Linked DNA regions of Homo sapiens. The protein of the gene in region 2 purifies or fractionates together with the protein of the main gene of each other region. This does not show direct contact. Each region holds a gene or a part of one and is shown on either strand. Other genes may lie near its edges.

Region 1 (4,897 bases), about 34 Mb from region 2:
GCCTGGCCAACATGATGAAACTCCATTTCTACTAAAAATACAAAAATTAGACGGGCTTGGTGGTGCACGTCTGTAATCCCAGCTACTTAGGAGGCTGAGGCAGGAGAATCACTTGAATCCGGGAGGCAGAGGTTGCAGTGAGCTGAGATCATGCCACTGCACTCCAGCCTGGGTGACAGAGTGAGGTTCTGTCTCAAAAATAAATAAATAAATAAATAAATAAATAAATAAATAAATAGGCTGGATACAGTGGCTCACGCCTGTAATCCCAGCACTTTGGGAGATCAAGGCAGGCAGATCACCTGAGGTTAGGAGTTTGAGACCAGCCTGGCCAACATGGTGAAACCCCATCTCTACTAAAAATACAAAAATTAGCCAGGTGTGGTGGCGGGCGCCTGTAATCCCAGCTACTAGGGAGGGTGAGGCAGGAGAATTGCTTGAACCTGGGAGGGGGAGGTTGCAGTGAGCCAAGATTGCACCACTGCACTCCAGCCTGGGTGATAGAGCAAGACTCCATCTTGAAAAAATAAAATAGGCCGGGCGCGGTGGCTCACACCTGTAATCCCAGCACTTTGGGAGGCTGAGGCGGGTGGATCATGAGGTCAGGAGATCGAGACCATCCTGGCTAACACGGTGAAACCCCATCTCTACTAAAAATACAAAAAATTAGCCGGGCACGGTGGCAGGCGCCTGTAGTCCCAGCTACTTGGGAGGCTGAGGCAGGAGAATGGCATGAACCTGGGAGGCGGAGCTTGCAGTGAGTCGAGATCGCGCCACTGCACTCCAGCCTGGGTGAAAGAGTGAGACTCCCTCTCAAAAAAAAAAAAAAAATAAAATAAAATAAAATAGGCTGGGGGCAGTGGCTCATGCCTGTAATCCTAGCACTTTGGGAGGCTGAGGCGGGCGGATCACCTGAGGTCAGGAGTTCGAGACCGGCCTGGCCAACATGGTGAAATCCTATCTCTACCAAAAATACTAAAAATTAGCCGGGTGTTGTGGCAGGCGCCTGTAATCCTAGCTACTCAGGAAGCTGAGACAGGAGAATCACTTGAACCCGGGAGGAGGAGGTTGCAATGAGCCGAGATCGCGCCATTGCACTCCAGCCTGGGCAACAAGAGTGAAATTCTGTCTCAAAAAAAATAATAATAATAAAATAGAATAAAAATAAAAATAAAATAAAATAAATATAATAAAACAGGCTGGGTTCGGTGGCTCATGCCTGTAATCCCAGCACTTTGGGAAGGTTAGGCAGGCAGATTGCTTGAGTCCAGGAGTTCGAGGCCAGCCTGGACAACATGATTCGAGGCCCATCTCTACAAAAAATAAACAAAAAATTAGCCAGGCATGGTGGTGCATGATTGTAATCCCAGCTACTCAGGAGGCTGAGGCAGGAGGATCACCTGAGGCTGGGGAGGTCGAGGCTGCAGTGAGCCATGATTGTGCCATTGCACTCCAGCCTGGGTAACAGAGTGAGACCCTGTCACAAAAACAAAAACAAAACCATAAATAAAACCAAAAACAAACAGCAGCCACTTGATGGCAGAGGCTACAATCTTCCTATGCCTGATTGATCCACACCAGAACCCACTGAAGACAGAACTTTTCTCATCCCCATTTTACAGATGAGCAAATGGAGGCTCAGAGAGGTTAAGTGGTATACCCAAGGTCACACAGGTTGGTGAGAAGGTTAGAGCAGTATCTGTTCCAACTGTCCCTTTAGCCCATGTCATTTTTTTTTTTTTTGAGAAGGAGTCTCGCTCTGTCGCCCAGGCTGGAGTGCAGTGGTGCAATCTTGGCTCACTGCAAGCTCCGCCTCCCGAGTTCATGCCATTCTCCTGCCTCAGCCTCCCAAGTAGCTGGGACTACAGGCGCCTGCCACCATGGCTGGCTAATATTTTTTTGTATTTTTAGTAGAGACGGGGTTTCACTGTGTTAGCCAGGACGGTCTCGATCTCCTGACCTCATGATCTGCCCGCCTCGGCCTCCCAAAGTGCTGGGATTACAGGAGTGAGCCACCACGCCTGGCCTAGCCTATGTCATCTTGAGACTCCATCTCTGCCCCAGCCCCACCTGGCCCCCACACCTTTGCCAATGACTCGGTCACTGTGGGTGACCACCCGCTCATGGGGAATCAGCACATCCTTGACCTCAGCCAAGAGCGCAGAGTCCAGGTCCCTTAGCTGGATGGACTCTTTCCGCAGCAGTGGCACACAGGATTCATCTTCACTATCGGAGAAGGATGCTCCATGGACACAAGTGGTGGAATCCAGACCATCAATGGCAGGGAGTGCTGTGGGGAGAGGGAATGAGGAGCTTGTAGGGACAGGGGGTGGCTTTAGCTTCTCATGCCTCCACTATCTCACCAAGGCCACTTCTGTAGTCAGAGCCCGAGTACAGAATAGGCAGGGGTGTGGCTCCAGCAGTCTGGTCCAGGGATGCCAGGTCATTCAGGTTGGGAGGAAGAACTGTGGAAAGAGAATCCTTGGTGGCTTGGCTTTCCAAGCTCCTAGGGGCCGACCCCTCTGGGGAGGACTTAGATCCCTAAGTCCTGGGCAGAGAGAGGATGTAGGGACTTGAAGATGCCATTGGTTGGGGGTAGGGGCTGATTAAAGGTAGGAGCAGAGAACTCACCTAGCTGCTTCCTCCGCCACCAGTAGCTGAAGACCAGTGCAGTCGCCAGTGCAGCCACAAGCAGCAGCAAAGGCAGCAGGATACCAAGGAGCGTGCTCTGTGGGACCCCATCTGGCCCTGGCCGCACCACTCTACCCAGGATATGACATTCACCATCTACGCAGACCTGGGGGCAGGTGGCAACTCAGGCCCAGCCTGTAGGCCCTCTGCCCGTGTTTCCCAGGGAGGTCCAGCTGGGCTGCCTACCTGCAATGGGGCACCATCCTGGCCAAGCTGCAGGGATGGGGGCAGGGGGCAGACAACCATGTCCCCCCGGAACTCGTGCTGGCAGCTCTCACCACCCACGGTCACGTTGATACCCACACAGTCAGCCACAGCGCCCAGCCCAATATACTGCAGAGAGGGTCATGAGGACCAGCCAGTAGGCTGGCCCCTACTTTCAGATCCCCAACTGTCCCTGCCCCTATCCCTTACACTTACCTCAAACTTAATGGCATGCTCCTCAGGCTTCAGTGGAACTAGGTTGGCACTGGGTGGATGGGGTGGGGGTAGGAAGCGAAAGCCAGGCAGTGTAAAGCCAGCAGCTCCATCCCCTCGGGCACTCAGATTCCCTGCCACCCATCCCTGGGGGTCTCGGACCACATATTCAGGAAGGCGGCACAGCTGCTGCTCTGGAAGCTGCCTCTCACACTGCTGGGACCAATATGAGAGTGATTAGCCAGGAACCCCACCTGTGATTGCTCCTCGCCTCAGCCCAGCACGAGGTTGGGCTGCAGCTCAGGGAACTCATCCAGCCTTCCTCCCTCCTGGCCAGCACTCACTCACCCTGCTTTCCACTGCCCTAAGCCCGTCATGGAATGACAGCACTAAGTGCCATGCTGAAGTTAGATGCTGGCCACAGATGGTGATGTGGGAGTTGCTGTGGAAGAGGGTAGGGTGGTAGGCTTTGGGTGTTCTCCAAAGCTGGCTCTCTCATTCCCCAGAGGCCAGAGTGGGCAAAGAGGCAGTGCTTACATGTAGCCACAGTTGGGGCTGATGCTTAGCACGACAGGGTCTTCTCTGTACTGGAAGGTCCAGGAACCAGGTACCTGGGCACCCCCCACCTGCAGGCTAAGGGGGACACTGGCCACCGTGGCCCCAGGGGGTGTGGCACATAAAAGCTGCCCCTCACTGACCCTACAGGAACAAGAGATTGGGCTCAAGGTTACCCTCTTTGTGATGGCCAGGCCCACTTCTTCCAGGGGCCTGTTGACCTCTCCCAGTTCGTCTGTTATCTCTCCCACCTGCCCCACTCCATGGTCTGTCTGAAAATAAGGTGGTCCCAGGAAGACATCCCAAGAGGGTAAGGAGGGAACAGGTTCCCCACAGCCTTGGCTGGAGCCATTGGACTCTGTGATGGGCTCTCTTGCCTCTGGGCTGAAGAGGGCAGTAGTCTTTTCTTCCTGGACCTGCTCTCCACACCACACTGACCATGTAACAAGCACTCTTCCCTCCATCCTGACAGAATCCGGGTCCCCACCTGGATAGAACCCTGCGGCCTCCCATGCCTGCCTGGTGGTACTTACCGTGCTAGCAGACACTCAGTCCCATTGACCAGCACAGCCCGGCTGGTGCCTACAGACAGACTCTGGCCTTCAAGAGTGAGACAGGTGCCTCCTGCCCGTGGGCCAAAGAGGGGTTGCACTGCTATCAGCACTGGCTCCTAAGAGGACATAGAGGTGGCTTAGGCAGGTCCTCCACTCCAAGCCCCTCCCTTCCCGTACCATGCACTGGCCAAGGGCACAGACAGGGCAAGGTAGCCTCACCATGAAAGAGAAGCCTCTCAGCACGGAGGTGCCGTCTACCCGGAAGTGCTTGCCCGGTGGCATGTTAGTCACGGTGAGGCTGACGTTGGTAGGCCCCACTGCCTGGGTGCCCAAGGGCTCCAGTTCACACTCAAACTCCTCTACAAAGTCTTTCCGGGGCACTGGTCTGGGGCACCAGGGGAACCCCTGAGGTCAGCCAGGAATTACACAGGCCTAGATGCATGCCTGCCACAAGCCACAGGGCTCCTCTGAGCCAGAGAATGGCATTTCTCCACCCATGCCTCCCTCCATGGAAGGAAGGTTCTGGTGGGGCAGAGATTAACCTTGGCTGGTCCATGAGTGAACAGACAGGAAGGGCACATGAAAGCTCAAAAAGGGACAGAGACCTTTTTGACTCTCAAAAAGCAGTCAGAACCACTGCAGCTTCCCCCATCCCCCCTTGCCTCTGATAAGCAGAGAAC
Region 2 (5,273 bases):
AAATTAGCCACATTTTACACACTGAGCTTGGATCTTTAAAAAAATAATTCTTCACTTAAAGTAAATAGAACTACACATACGTTCACACATACACACACATATTAGGAACTCTAAAATGTTAAAAGTGTTTATGGCAGCTGGGTGCGGTGGCTCATGCCTGTAATCCCAGCACTTTGGGAAGCCAAGGCAGGTGGATCACCTGAGGTCAGGAGTTTGAGACCAGCCTGGCCAGCATGGTGAAACCTCTTCTCTACTAAAAATACAAAAATTAGCCGGGCGTGGTGGCAGGGGCCTGTAATCCCAGCTACTTGGGAGGCTGACGCAGGAGAATCACTTGAACCTGGGAGGCAGAGGTTGTGGTGTGCCAAGATTGCACCACTGCACTCCAGCCTGGGCGACAGAGAGACTCCGTCTCAAAAAAAGAAAGTGTTTATCTCTAAGTAACTAAATTACTGGTGCTTTGAATTTTCTTCCTAATACTCTTTTTTAAGTTATATCTATTTAAGGTATACCATATGATATTTTGATGTACATATAGTGAAATGATTACTACAGTCAAGCAAATTAACATATTCATGTTACTTTTTTTCCTAAGATATTGTAGAAATAGTCACTTTTTTTGGTAAAAGTACCTAAAATTTACTCTCTTTGCAAATTTACAATACACAATATTATTAACTATGGCTTTCATGTTGTACATTAGATCTCCAGGCTTTATCGTACTTGACTGAAACTTTGTACCCTTTGACCTATCTCCCTATTCCCCCTCCTCCTCCTCATTCCCTCCCCGGTAACTAACTCTACTTTCAGTTTCTAAGAATTGAAGGGGTTTTTTTTTTCCAAGTCTTTCTACCCTAGATCAGCATTAGCTCTACTCAGTAAAATCCTGCAGTGACCTTTTTAAGAAAATGTTTTCAGTAATAATAATGTCATTACCAGCAGTTCATGTTTGCATTTGCCATACCGCCCAAGGCATGGATGAGACCTGGGCCAGAAACAACAAGGCAGACTCCTGGCCTAAAAGCAAAACAGAATTTATTAAAATCAGGTCAAATGTAACAACTGATTCATAACACTTTAGTGTGAAACATGGCAATCTTGGACTTCAAAGGAAGGACATACAAGTCTTTACTATAACTGATAAAACAATTATTAGAATATTTTTAATTAAAAAACAAGGCGATATATATATATCGCGATATATATACATACACACATATACGTATATAGTGTATACACTATATATGTATATAGTGTATATATACGTATATACGTGTATATATACACACACTATATACATAGTGTATATATATACACACTATATACCTATAGTATATACTATATACGTATATATACACACACTACATACGTATATATACACACACTATATACGTATATATACGTATATACGTATACGTATATATACACACACTATATACGTATATATACACACTATATACGTATACATACGTGTATATATGTATACATACGTATATACGTATACATGCATGTATATATGTATACATACGTATATATGTATACATGCGTGTATATATGTATACATACGTATATACGTATACATACGTGTATATATGGATCCATATATACGTATACATACGTGTATATGTATACATACGTATATATATGTATACATATATGTATATATACTCTGGGCACCAGAGTATACTCTATATATATGTATACATACAGACACACGTATACACACACGTGTATACATGTAGACACACGTATACACACACGTATGCATGTAGACACACGTATACATACACACACGTATACATACACACACGTATACATACACTTGTATACATATACACTTGTATATACACTTGTATACATATACACATGTATACACATGTACGCACATGTGTGCGTGTATACACATGTACGCACATGTGTGCGTGTATACACATGTACGCACATGTGTGCGTGTATACACATGTACGCACATGTGTGCGTGTATACACATGTACGCACATGTGTGCGTGTATACACATGTACGCACATGTGTGCGTGTATACACATGTACGCACATGTGTGCGTGTATACACATGTACGCACATGTGTGCGTGTATACACATGTACGCACATGTGTGCGTGTATACACATGTACGCACATGTGTGCGTGTATACACATGTACGCACATGTGTGCGTGTATACACATGTACGCACATGTGTGCGTGTATACACATGTACGCACATGTGTGCGTGTATACACATGTACGCACATGTGTGCGTGTATACACATGTACGCACATGTGTGCGTGTATACACATGTACGCACATGTGTGCGTGTATACACATGTACGCACATGTGTGCGTGTATACACATGTACGCATATGTACATATATACTCTGGGCAAGAGTGAGATGCTATCTCAAAAAAAGTGTATATATACACACACATATACATATATGTGTGTGTATATATACACACACATACGTATATATGTATATATACACACATACACACATACGTATATATGTGTGTATATATACACACATATATATGTGCGTGTGTGTATATATATACACACTTTTTTTTTGAGATAGCATCTCACTCTGTTGCTCAGGCTGGAGTGCAGTGGCATGATCAGGGCTCACTGCAGCCTCAACCTCCTAAGCTCAGGTGATCTTCCCACCACAGCCTCCCAAGTAACCGGGACTACAGGCAGATGCCACCACACCCGGCTAATTTTTTGTATTTTTTTTTGGTAGAGATGGGGTTTCACCATGTTGCCCAGGCTGGTCTTGAACTCCTGGGCTCAAGCAATCTGCCTGCCTTGGCCTCCCAAAGTGCTGGGATTACAGGCATAAGCCAGCATGCCTGGCCCAAAAAAAGAAAGATATCGGATTTCTTGTGAGAAATAAGGTACCTATCATTTTCACACCTTATGTCTCTAACCACTTATTTTGATCTGGACTACATCTGGACTAAATCAAGTTAATGGTATACAGAAGCAAATTTTTGACTGCTGAGTTCATTTTTGTATGAAAAAAGGTTTTTTTTTCATTTCTTAACAAATAAATATAACGTCGACTGATCTTTGATAGGAAAGTAATTCTGAATGCAGTGCTCTGCCCAAAATGTTTTGTGTTTTTTTTTTTGTCTTTTTTTTTTTTTTTTTTGAGACGAAGTCTCGTTCTTGTTCCCCAGGCTGCAGTGCAATGGTGTGATCTCGGCTCACTGCAACCTCCGCCTCCCGGATTCAAGTGATTCTCCTGCCTCAGCCTCCCAAGTAGCTGGGATTACAGGCATGTGCCACCACACCCGGCTAATTTTTGTATTTTTAGTAGAGACGGGGTTTCACCATGTTTGGCCAGGCTTGTCTCCAACTCCTGGCCTCAGGTGATCCACCCGCCTCGGCCTCCCAAAGTGCTGGGATTACAGGCATGAGCCACCGCGCCTGGTCCCCAAAATCTTTTAAAACTGAATTTGAGGCTGAGCACGGTGGCTGACGTCTGTAATCCCAGCATCTTGAGAGGCTGAGGCAGATGGATCACTTGAGTCTAGGAGTTCAAGACCAGCCTGGGCAACATGATGAAACCCTGTCTCTAAAAAATATAAAAACTAGCTGAGTATGGTGGTGCACACCTGTAGTGCCAGCTACTTGGGAGGCTGAGGCAGGAGAATCGCTGGAACCTGGGAGGTGGAGTTTGCAGTGAGCCGAGATGGTGCCACTGCACTCCAGCATGGAGACGACAGAGTGAGACTCCAAATAAATAAATATTGAACTTGAATGTTTTACCCTTCAGTGTGACTTTCTAAGCTTAAACCACTCGGGAAAAAGGTATCTCAATATAATTCAGTTCACCATTTTACACTTATAAAATAATTTCTTAAAAATTTCTGTTTAAGACAGACTTGAAAATAAGTAATTACCACCAAGTAAACTAAACTTCTAGAACAGTACTATCCAACAGAACTTTGTATAGTAATAGAAATGTTCTGCATTTGCAGTATGATACGGTAGCCACTACTGACATGGTTACTGAGCACTTGAAATGTGGCTACTACAAACTGATAAACTATGATTTAAATGTTATTTAATTTTAATTAATTTAAATGTAAACAAGTCATACGGCTCGTGGCTACTATACTTGCCAGTGCAGCTCCAGAAGTTCATTCAAACAGCAAAAATGTTTTAAATATGAACTTTTCGGCCGGGCATGGTGGCTCACGCCTGTAATCCCAGCCCTTTGGGAGGCCAAGGCCAGCAGATCATGAGGTCAAGAGACAGAGACCATCCTGGCCAACATAGTGAAACCCCATCTCTACTAAAATACAAAAATTAGCTGGGTGTGGTGGTGCATGCCTGTAATCCCAGCTACTGGGGAAGCTGAGGCATGAGGATCGCTTGAACCCAGGAGGCAGAGGTTCCACTGAGCCGAGATTGCACCACTGCACTGTCCAGCCCAGATAACAGTGCAAGACTCCATCTCAAAAAAAAAAAAGTATGAACTTTTAACCATTCTCTTAATCATTGTTCTAGCATTTTTTACATTAAGGCATTAATTAATAACTATAATTTAAATGCTTTCCAAGCTAAATGAAAAGATTAAAATATTTGTCATATGTAAATAAAGCGGCAGAAAACAGTGACAATAGTGTTACTTGATGGCCTATTTTTTTCAGGTTCAAATTCACAAGTTCCTTATCACAGAAAAAAAACTATTCTGGTGAGGTCTAGACTTTGAGAATCTTATTAGTTTGCATTTCTTAGCAACTGAATTACTAGTTTCATTTTTGGAAATAAAAAAATGTATTAAAACTAACATATGTGAAAAAAGTATGATACACATTCCTGTGAGAGTCCAAATTCTGCTTAAAAAATACATAGATAAGGGAAAAAACTGGAAGAAAATGACCAATTCTTAACAGTTCTGAGATCATAGGTGATTTTCTTCATCTTTTTTCCTTTTTTTTTTTTTTTTTTTTTTTGAGACGGAGTCTCACTCTATCACCCAGGCTGGAGTGCAGTGGCGCAATCTCAGCTCACTGCAACCTCCGCCTCCTGGGTTCAAGCCGATTCTCCTGCCTCAGCCTCCCGAGTAGCTGGGATTACAGACGCATGCCACCACACCAGGGTGATTTTTGTATTTTTAGTAGAGATGGTGTTTCACCATGTTGGCCAAGCTGGTCTCAAACTCCTGACCTCAGGTGATCCACCTGCCTCAGCCTCCCAAAGTGCTGGGATTACAGGCGTGACCCACCGTGCCTAGTCGATTTTCATTTTCTTCTTTGTGCTTT
Region 3 (5,367 bases), on a different chromosome or scaffold from region 2:
TGTCTTGAAACAGACCAGCAAAACTTGTCAAAGAGCTCAAGATTCATCAAAAGGTGTTTTGAGATGAAACCAAGTCAGTGACCCCTGAAGATACAGAGAAAGAGAAAGATGTTGTGTCACATGAACTCAGTTTCGGCAACATTCTATCATAGTCTGGTGCTGAAAATGCACAAACCAAACACAAGCATGTAGACAGGCCCAATGCCCTACCCCAAGTAAGATTATTCTGTCTTTCACATACCAAGGAGATGAAGGAACAACCCTTAATATTTTCACCTGTTAAATACCTTTGCCAGAAGCCTGAGTTAATGAAAAGCATATTTATCTATTCAGTTAGACTCATTTTGTTAAGTTTGAAAGTCAGAACAAAGTATGTACATTTAATATATGTTAATAAATACAATGATTTTGTAGTATCAAATTCTTGACTCTGAAATATTAGTTTTTTTTTAAAATCAGGGAATATTTGAGAAATTCTAGTTGGGTTTCTATTTATTCAACACAGATGTTATAATGATGAAAGCCTACAATAAAATGGGTCTCCTGTGACTAATGGGAATGAGGTACAGAGAGGCTGATGCTGGATTAGTATGTTGAGTAGATGGAAGGAATGAGATACTCAAAACCAGTCACACTGTGTAGTATCACAGACCTGCAACAACCTATAGCTGAAATCAGTATTAAGTAATGGTTTCATGAGGCAAATGTAAATCTGACATCTTGAAATTTTGTTTAACCCTGAGTAACATGCCACCAGTACTTCTCAAAACTTACCAGGAACTGGCATTCTGTCTACCAATGTAAATTCTGAATACCTAAGTGATCTCTGTGAAGGGGAGTGGAGGATCTTTAACTAGACAGAAGTGGGCCCAAAACACAGGGAAGAAAAACTGTGAAAGCTACAGTTCTACTCTACTAACGGGGCTACTGCCTTAGCATTTTGCCCACTGTGGCATATTCTGTTGAATATCCTCAGTGATTTGATACATAGTAGATGCTCAATAAAAGCTTGCTGAAATGAAAATTAAACACCTGCCTCCAAGGTTACTGTAAGCATTAAATATACTATCTGAAAAACACCTACAATAATTATATAATCTTCCAGAATGCAGTAAAGAATATATATGATAACAAATATAATGTGCCTGGTACATAGTAGTCACTCAATAAATGTTGCCAATGGCAAACAAGACAAAAATGAAAGAATTTATCCAGCAGGTATGATATTTTATTAGTCTAGTTATTTCAACACATGACACGAGTTTAAAAAGAACTACCTACAAAAGAGGAACAGGTTGATTAATAAATGAAAGAGTCAAAGTAGATTATTTATGGAAAATATGGAGGGCAGCAGCTGCATCTTGTTTTCAGTATCTAATGCCTATCTCACAGTATGTGTCTGTTGAATGAAATGTTCTGGGCATTTCTTTGAAGCATGTGTAGTCCTTGAAGAATGGAAGAGATGTCCACTTCCCTCAAAAATCAGAATTAATGAATGCTGGGAGTGGAATAAGCCTTAGAGATAACCTAGTCTAGGGGTGACCAAACTACAGCTTGTGGCCTATTTCTATATTACTCTTCAATTAAAAATGTTTATATATATATATATATATATATATATATATTTTTTTTTTTTTTTTTTTTTTTTGAGACAAAAGTTTCACTCTTATCACCCAGGCTGGAGTGCAATGGCACGATCTCTGCCACTGCAACCTCTGCCTCCTGGGTTCAACCGATTCTCCTGCCTCAGCCTCCCAGGTAAATGGAATTACAGGTGCTTGCCACCACGCCCAGCTAATTTTGTATTTTTAGTAAAGACGGGGTTTCACCATTGTAGCCAGGCTGGTCTCGAACTCCTGACCTCAGGAGATCCACCCACCTCAGCCTCCCAAAGTGCTCGGATTACAGGTGTTAGCCACTGTGCTCGGCCGTTTTTTAAAATATTTCTAAAGGGTTTGTAAACACATACACACAGTGTGTACCCCAAAAAGCCTAATATATATATTATCTGGTCCTTTATAGAAAAGTTTGCAGACCCTTGATGGAATCCACTCTCCACACTTTGCACAAGAAAATGGTGAATTAACCTGTTCAATGTCAACTACTTATCAAAGTTAGAGTGCGAGACCTGGATTCAAAATGATTTTTTTGCTTTTTGTATGAACTGGGGTCCAAATTTTTTCAAAGTACACGTAAAAAATTTAGATATATGAAGTTTGCATTAGCAATTCCATTTATTCTAAGAACGATTAAAGCAAACTTTTTTTTTAAAAAGCGGTCCCCTAAAAAAAAGTATGGGCTTTGTAAGCAAAAAACAGAAATTCAAAAACCACCTAGTCCCATAATACTAACTTTTTTATAGACTCTTAGAAAGTTATCTAACCTTTTTTGAGCCTCTGTAGTCTTAACTATAAAATGAGGGTAATAGTACCTTTACGACAGGTTTAAAAAGATTGCGAGGATCATATAACTGGCGTTCAAAAAACTGACTTTTCCTTTTCCTCCTAACCCAGGGTCATAGTGGTCACACTTTAGGCAATCAATTAGATTGGATGACATGATATCTTGTACTCCTAACTTCAAGTCATCCTTCCGTCTTAGCCTCCCAAAGTGCTGGGATTACAGGTGTGAGCGCCTGACCTTTTGCCATCTCTTTGCATCGATCTTTGCTTTTGTTTCTCTCTGTGTGTCTCCTTGCCTCTCTCCCTGTCACTGTCTCTCTCTCTCCCCTGCCTCCCTCTTGGTCTCTTTTTTTTGCTGTCTCTTTCTGATGACCTTGTTCCCATCTCTGTGCGTGTGTGGCTCTCTCCCTGTCCATCTCTTACCATCTCTGCCTTCCTCTCCCAGGTCTTAAACGAATATTTCCACAATGTCTGTGAACTGGACCTGGTGTTCAACTTCTACAAGGTAGGCTCCTGGTGAAGAGGAGGCTGAAGGAGCCCGAGGAGTGGGACGTGGGGGACCCGTGGTGCACTAGCCACCCGGAGCCTCTGCTGAGGTCTGTGTCCCAGCTCGAGGGGCATCAGAGCCCCAGCTTCCAGGGTCCGGGCCAGCATCCCGGGGGGCCTCGTCTCACCCACGTCAACTCGTTATTCCTAGGTGGAATGTTTCCCACTTAAGAGCCCAGTGGTCCCGGAAAGTAAAGAGATCGGAAGTCAGGTGGACGGACAGAGTCGGATGGAGCAAAGAAGCCCGGCACACACCAACAGAGAGAACGACATAGCGCGGGAAGGAGGGTCCGAGGAGACACATTCCAAACCCGGAAAGGGAAATTTGGAATTTAGGTTTAGGGTAAGGAGAGATTAAATAGAGCTGGGATACCGGGTTTCTACCCTGGGAGATGAATACGCTCAAGCTGGCTGGACAAGACACCTTATGACAATACAGTGAACGCACGTCACTCCTTACCTGTTGCCTAAGTCCACGGCCACAGCTCGAGACCCTGCGCTACTCCATAGTGCTCGCACTTGCAACTGGGTGAGTGCCCGATCCCGCCGTGGCAGAAGGAAAGGACCATCGCTCAGGGGCCGGAGCCGGAGGCACGAGCAGCAGTACCTGCAGGCCGCCATGACACCCGGCACGCGGTCAACGCAGGCTGTGCCCTGATTGGCTCACTCCGCAGACCGTGGGGCGGAGCCTGATGGAGTTTCGTTTCCGCGGTGCCCGAGGGACGCCGGGGTAACGGAAACCTTGGCCACCTTCTACGAAGACTAGAGAGGGTCAAACCTATCAGAACGCGATTATGTTGCAAACGATCTTTGTCTTTATGTGCCAACGAAAGGCAATTAGATAAATAAGGTTTTTGTGTGTGTACTATCGTAATTTAAAGGAGAAGTCCTAGAATAATGTAAATGTTTAATATGCAGAGTAAATTTATATTTACTTTTAATACTAGAAGTCATAGAACAACACATTATTATTATTTGGATCTGTGAACTAAGAATTAGAATTTGGGTGGTGGGCCTTGGAAAGAGATCTCCTTCTCCCCTTCTCCGCCCTGGTTTTTATTTTAAAAATTTCACATAGCAGATATGTTACTACAGCGATTTGTGTTAACCAATTTACAGTAAATTCATTTTTCATCGACTTGTAATTTTAGAAATCTTTATTGTCACTTCTGATTCATTTTCATTTCCATTGCTAATAATTAGCAATTTATATTTCTGTCCCTTTTGGTCGAACTCTTAAATGCAAAATGCCAGCTACTGTTTGAAGTAAATATTTTGTAAAATGAAAAAAAAAAGTTTTTGGGATTTGAAAAATTTTTAGAGAATGGATAAATTTCTTCCACCCCATTAATCCATTCTGTTAGAAATTCTTTATGTTTTTCCTTGAATGAACCAATGGGCATTTTCATATTATGATGTAAATTTTTTGTGTAAGGTGATAACCGCCTTACCCCAAAGAAAACCAAACAACAAAAACCCAACACTCATTCAAACACAGTTTTAAGAATTAAAAACGTTGGCTGGACGCTGTGGCTCACGCCTGTAATCCCAGCACTTTGGGAGGCCGAGGCGGGCGGATCACCTGAGTTCGAGACCAGCCTGACCAACACAGAGAAACCCCGTCTCTACTAAAAATACAAAACTAGCCGGGCATGGTGGCTTATGCCTGTAATCCCAGCTACTCGGGAGGCTGAGGCAGGGGAATCGCTTGAACCCGGGAGGCGGAGGTTGCAGTGAGCCGAGATCGCGTCATTGCAACAAGAGTGAAACTCGGTCTCAAAAAAAAAAAAAAAAAAAAAAAAAAAAAAAGTCCGGGCGCAGTGGCTCATGCCTGTAATCCCAGCACGCTGGGAGGCAGAGGCGGGTGGATCACGAGGTCAAGAGACCCAGGGCATCCTGGCCAACATGCTGAAACCGCGTCTCTACTAAAAATACAAAAATTAGCTCGGTGTGGTGGCGCGTGCCTGTAATCCCAGCTACTCCAGAGGCTGAGGCATGAGAATCGCTTGAATCCAGGAGGCGGAGGTTGCAGTGAGCCGAGATCGCGCCACTGCACTCCAGACCGAGACTCCATCTAAAAAAAAAAAAAAAAAAAAAAAAAATTAAAAATGTTGATCCGTGATGATTTAAAAAAGAAAAAAGAATGATGAGCTCTAAACAGACAAATGATTTGCTGGCAAAGCAGTTTTCTGACACCTTGCTTTCATGAGCTATTATTACTGATTTGGGATTTCCATTCCAATAGAGGGATTACCATTAACTTTGTTTACAGATTTTTAGTGTTAAAGCAGTTTTTGCGTCTCCTCCCTTTTACTTTACCTTGAGTTGCCACAGAGTTTTCCAGACCAATCTATTGAAATCTCTCATGAAGATAAATCTCTCAGAAAACCTACTTGCCACAATTGAACATGACTTTTGA
Region 4 (4,897 bases), on a different chromosome or scaffold from region 2:
CTCGGGAGGCTAAGGTGGGAGAATTGCTTGAACCCAGGAGGTGGAAGTTGCAGTGAGCCAAGATAGCACCACTGCGCTCCAGCCTGGGTGACAGAGTGAGACTCTGTCTCAAAAAAAAAAAAAAAAAAAAAAAAAAAACTGCTTGTAATACAAAGATTTTTAAAGAAGTTTTTCGTTCTTCTGTGACAAAAATTACAAAGTAGCTTACATACAAAATGTTCAGAATGAAGAAAAAAATTGCTACTAATATTTAGTGACAAAAACCAGTAAAGTTTACTGTGTCCAACCTACACAAGATAAAAAATCTAGATTATTCTGGGTCTCTGGGACATGGCAGGTGTTTTACCCCAAGATGTCTATGTTTAAGCAAATTACATTAAGTACCACAGAAAAAAGTCTGTTGTACACTACATAATTATGCCAAGTAATTTATGTGAAAAATCTGAACTTCACATTTCATACTTTATATTGGCTAACTTATCAAATTTGAAACCCTTGGGGAAATCTTTCTTTCTACAGGTATATCTTTCAGTAGGTCCTTTCCTTGTTCATCGACTGCTGTTTGTCTAGAAGAAACATTAATCAACTTAGTAAAACTGAACCAGCCACACAAGCTAATAATAATTTTGGTAGGTATATAGAAAATTAATGATGCCATATTCAAAAGCAAACAGAAACTACTTTATCACATACACTTTCCAAAAACAGAACAAAAGTAGAAACAAATATTCTGCAAAGGCTTCAGGGGTTACTTTCACATGACTTTCGACCCTGTGTAATCTATGTGCCATCCATTTCAGTTAGAGGCTTAAGAGCAGATAAATACGGTCTTTCAGCATGAAAACCAGTACCCATTCTGGTAGTTACTAGAACCCATTCTGCCTTTAGCAACCCTGAAAAAACTGGCGAGCCTGGGGGTCATGAGAGAATTAGTCATAAACAGAAAGTGGTTTCTTCACGGGCCTCTGCTTTCCTGCCCAAAGCTATTTTAACTTGCTGTTCTCTTTTCTTCTTTTCCCCTACAGGGTCCTTGATTTGATATACTCCATTTCACCTAAATAGATTACATAGAAAGCATAGTGTACATTTATTATAACTTGTTACAACTGAAACGCTTACTATGGTCATAAATAAGTCCATCATTGATTCTTTCAGCAACTCCCCAGTTCTCCATAAACCAGATGGCCTCAAAGCTTGTACTTTGTGACATATATCAGAATGTGATCTTGTGATCTGTATGAAAACTGCAATCCATTACAGCTTAGCATCTGACATAGTTTAGACATGTGTCCCCTCTAAATTTCGCATATATATATATATATATATATATATATATATATATATATTTTTTAAGACGGAGTCTCTCTCTGTCACCCAGGTTGGAGTGCAATGGCATGATCTTGGCTCACTGCAACCTCTGCCTCCCGGGTTCAAGAGATTCTCCTGCCTCAGCCTCCCTGAGTAGCTGGGACTACAGGCACCTGCCAACGTCCAGCTAATGTTTTTTGTATTTTTAGTAGAGATGGGGTTTCGCCATGTTGCCAGGCTGGTCTCAAACTCCTGACCTCAAGTGATCTGCCCAACTCAGCCTCCCAAAGTGCTGGGATTACAGGTGTAAGCCAACGGGCCCAGCCTCTAAATTTCATGTTAAACTGTAATCCCCAATGTTGCAGGTGGGGCTTGGTAGTTGGCTCATGGGGGTGGATTTCTCACGAATGGTTTAGTGCCATCCCCTTGGTGCTCTCCTTGAGTCAGTAAATGAGCTCCCTTGAGATATGGTTGTTTAAAAGTGTGTGGCACCCCCACACCCCCACTCCTGCTTTTGTCATGTGATGTGCCTGTTCACACCTCACCTTCTGCTATGACTGTAAGCTTCCTAAGGCCCTCACCAGAAGCATGCCGGCACCATGCTTCCTGTACAGCCTGTAGATCCACGAACCAATTAAACCTCTTTTCTTTATAAATTACCCAGTCTTAGATATTTCTTTACTGCAATGCAAGAATGGCCCAATACAGCATCTAATGAAACCTCTTTATTACACATGTGTATGTGGCGAGTCACTCAATACAATCAATGGACTTTAAAAACCCCTCCACAGAGCTTCACCAACCCACTGCACTACAGAAATGAAATTCCACCCAGTAATTCTTTTCCCTCAGTCCCTACACAGGGTATGTTTCCCAAGCAGAGGCTGAACCAGCCCACACATTTCTTCTAATTGTATTTATCAGGTCTTGCTCAGGGGCTTAGAAACTGACAAATTTTTTTAAAGTAATAACAACAATTCTTCCAAAAGGTTTTTACCAGTTAGAAGTAATTTTAAAGGTCTTCCCAGCACAATAACTTATTTTATTTTTATTTCTATTTTTTTGAGACAGAGTCTCACTCTGTCACCCAGGCAGGAGTGTAGTGCTGTAATCTCGGCTCACTGCAACCTCTGCCCCCCAGGTTCAAGTGATTCTCCTGCCTCAGCCTTCCGAGTAGCTAGGGGTGGAATTACAGGTATGCGCCACCATGCCTGGCTAATTTTTGTATTCTTAGTAGAGAGGCAGTTTTGCTGTGTTGGCCAGGCTGGTCTCGAACTCCTGGCCTCAAGTGGTACACCTAATTCGGCCCCCAAAGTGCTGGGATTACAGGTGTGAACCAATGTGCCAGCCATAACTTAATTTAAAAAGGTAAGCAACGTAGAAAGTATTATCCACACAAGCAATTTAGAAGGGATTTCGACAATATGAAATGAACCCATCACCCCACCTTCACTTAGTTTTCACTCTAAATCCCATATCTGGCCAATCAAAATGAAATCTGACAGATCATGAGGAACACAGCATTCATGAATCCACATAGTAGAGAACTGAATTTGGATGTCCAAGTTAGGCAAAAAAAACTCTTGGGTGATAATATAGCCTACCTTCATGTCCTTTGAGGGTTGTGATGACTGAACACGTGTTCTGTTCAAGCTTCAGCAGGGTGATCTGCCCAGAATAATCACCAACGAAAGCATACTGAGTGTCAAAGTCATATCTGAGGAGAAGCAGTCAAGGATGTAGAACAGAAATCACCTGAAAGTCCTCTCATAAGAGAGATACCAGCATTAGTCAAAGTTAGTTTTCAAAGTTAGAAAACATGCATTTTAAAGAGAATAAGCATACACGTAAAACTATAACAAGAAAGGAAACACCCAACTGAAAAGCATGCAATATGTAAATATTGAAGGTAAAAATTAAAACAGCTGTTATTACTGAGAAAGTTTATATTCATTCATTCAACAGGAACTCATTGAGTGCCTGTTACTATATCAAGCAAGATCCCAGGAACTGGCAATAAAAAAAGAGCTGGTAGGGCAGACACACACGAAAACAAGTAGATATAATCAAGTACAATAAAGTGTCAAAGAGTAAAACTGATAACTACTGGGCTGGCTGCAGTGGCTCATGCCTGTAATCTCAGCACTTTGGGAGGCTGAGGCGGGCAGATCACTTGAGGTCAGGAGTTCAAGACCAACCTGGCCAACATGGTGAAACCCCGTCTCTACTAAAAACACAAAAAATTAGCTGGGCGTGGTGGCACACGCCTGTAATCCCAGTTACTCAGGAGGCTGAGACAAGAGAACAGCTTGAACCCAGGAGGCAGAGGCTGCAGTGAGCTGAGATGGTGCCACTGTACCACTCCAGCCTGGGTGACAGTGCAAGACTCTTTCTCAAAAAAAGAAAAAAAAAGGAAAGAAAAGAAAAAGAAATTGCTAACTACTGAAAACAGCAAGAAAGCTCTGAAACGTAATGGTTATTTATGAAATATCTCTGAAAATAATGTAAATCTGACAGTAAATACAAGACATGAATCCATGTTTCTTTTGGCCTAGAGAATTTAGCTATAAATGAAGAGGATGATTCACTTTAAATTACTGTGGATAGTTTAATAATCCAAAACGCAGTTATTTGTGGCGGTAGTACATTTAAATTTAGAAAATATATTAACTATTGGTCACAACTCATTACTTTCTCGATTTGTGGTCATAGATATTTGTGGAAAACCAGAAATTTATACACGACATGTTAACTACTATTTGTAATAGGAAAGCTATTTACAGTAGGATAACTATCACTCTTCCAAAACACGGGTCAAAAAGAGCACCGTAAACTAGGGCATGAACTGTGATTCTGTGTCATTTTCTACAAATCCATTTTGAGAGGCCTAGCACGTAACAAAAACGCTTATGTAGCACATACTATATCAGAGTATTTTTTGCTTGTTTGATCCTAAAGTATATGATACTATTTTAAATATCTCATGCTGTGCATTCATTTGTAGCAAACATTTTAAAGAAAGGCTTTCAATGGACAGAATTTTACTAAGCCAGACATTCAACTCTGAGAGAGAAACTACTGCGGGGTGTCTGCCTGTTGTTGATAACCTTGATCTTGCCATCACTAAGATACACAGCAGGCAGAGGTATCCTTAGGTAAGGGCGAGCTCTACATGAAGCAAATTCCATGTAGTAGCAGGAATTTTTTAGGCCGTGATTTTTAGCATTTTGGGGGATCCTGAGCCATCTTTGAGAGTATTATAAGGATTATGGGTCCTCTCCACACAAAAAAAAGCATTAAGCAAAAGTTTTGTGTAAAACTCCTTGTAGCCCATTTAGGAACAAACCCCAGGGCTATAAACCCTTAATGTTCAGTACATATACTTACAGAGTCTGCAAATAACCAATTACTAGAAGACAAGTTCCTTTTTTCCTTCCTTCACACAATAAAAAGTCTTTCCATTAGAAACACAAAGACATGAGAGGAAGGGTTTGCATTAATGGGCTTGGGTTTTCCACAATTTTGAATTAAAAACCTATAGCACCTCCCAGCACAGAACAATTCATTTCATTATTTTTAATAAACCCAA

What was found. The genes of interacting proteins can lie anywhere in the genome.
Region 1: the proteins of HACL1 (region 2) and MST1R fractionate together in Homo sapiens (co-fractionation; one large-scale study listed by BioGRID). This does not show direct contact.
Region 3: the proteins of HACL1 (region 2) and PNPT1 fractionate together in Homo sapiens (co-fractionation; one large-scale study listed by BioGRID). This does not show direct contact.
Region 4: the proteins of HACL1 (region 2) and WDFY1 fractionate together in Homo sapiens (co-fractionation; one large-scale study listed by BioGRID). This does not show direct contact.

The regions. Positions count from the first base shown.
Region 1 is NC_000003.12:49,893,084-49,897,980, forward strand, and holds part of MST1R (macrophage-stimulating protein receptor isoform 1 preproprotein), read right to left. Parts: intron 4,603-4,897; coding exon 4,437-4,602; intron 4,334-4,436; coding exon 4,197-4,333; intron 3,808-4,196; coding exon 3,646-3,807; intron 3,551-3,645; coding exon 3,457-3,550; intron 3,325-3,456; coding exon of another isoform or gene 3,322-3,324; coding exon 3,112-3,321; coding exon of another isoform or gene 3,037-3,111; exon of another isoform or gene 3,025-3,036; coding exon 2,878-3,024; coding exon of another isoform or gene 2,798-2,877; coding exon 2,632-2,797; intron 2,466-2,631; coding exon 2,364-2,465; intron 2,291-2,363; coding exon 2,084-2,290; intron 1-2,083. UniProt on the Homo sapiens protein: Receptor tyrosine kinase that transduces signals from the extracellular matrix into the cytoplasm by binding to MST1 ligand. Regulates many physiological processes including cell survival, migration and differentiation.
Region 2 is NC_000003.12:15,590,664-15,595,936, forward strand, and holds part of HACL1 (2-hydroxyacyl-CoA lyase 1), read right to left. Parts: intron 1,018-5,273; coding exon 937-1,017; intron 1-936. UniProt on the Homo sapiens protein: Peroxisomal 2-OH acyl-CoA lyase involved in the cleavage (C1 removal) reaction in the fatty acid alpha-oxydation in a thiamine pyrophosphate (TPP)-dependent manner.
Region 3 is NC_000002.12:55,690,255-55,695,621, forward strand, and holds the start of PNPT1 (polyribonucleotide nucleotidyltransferase 1, mitochondrial precursor), read right to left. Parts: upstream 3,591-5,367; 5' UTR 3,570-3,590; coding exon 3,409-3,569; intron 1-3,408. UniProt on the Homo sapiens protein: RNA-binding protein implicated in numerous RNA metabolic processes. Catalyzes the phosphorolysis of single-stranded polyribonucleotides processively in the 3'-to-5' direction. Mitochondrial intermembrane factor with RNA-processing exoribonulease activity.
Region 4 is NC_000002.12:223,896,046-223,900,942, forward strand, and holds part of WDFY1 (WD repeat and FYVE domain-containing protein 1), read right to left. Parts: intron 3,026-4,897; coding exon 2,913-3,025; intron 1-2,912. UniProt on the Homo sapiens protein: Positively regulates TLR3- and TLR4-mediated signaling pathways by bridging the interaction between TLR3 or TLR4 and TICAM1.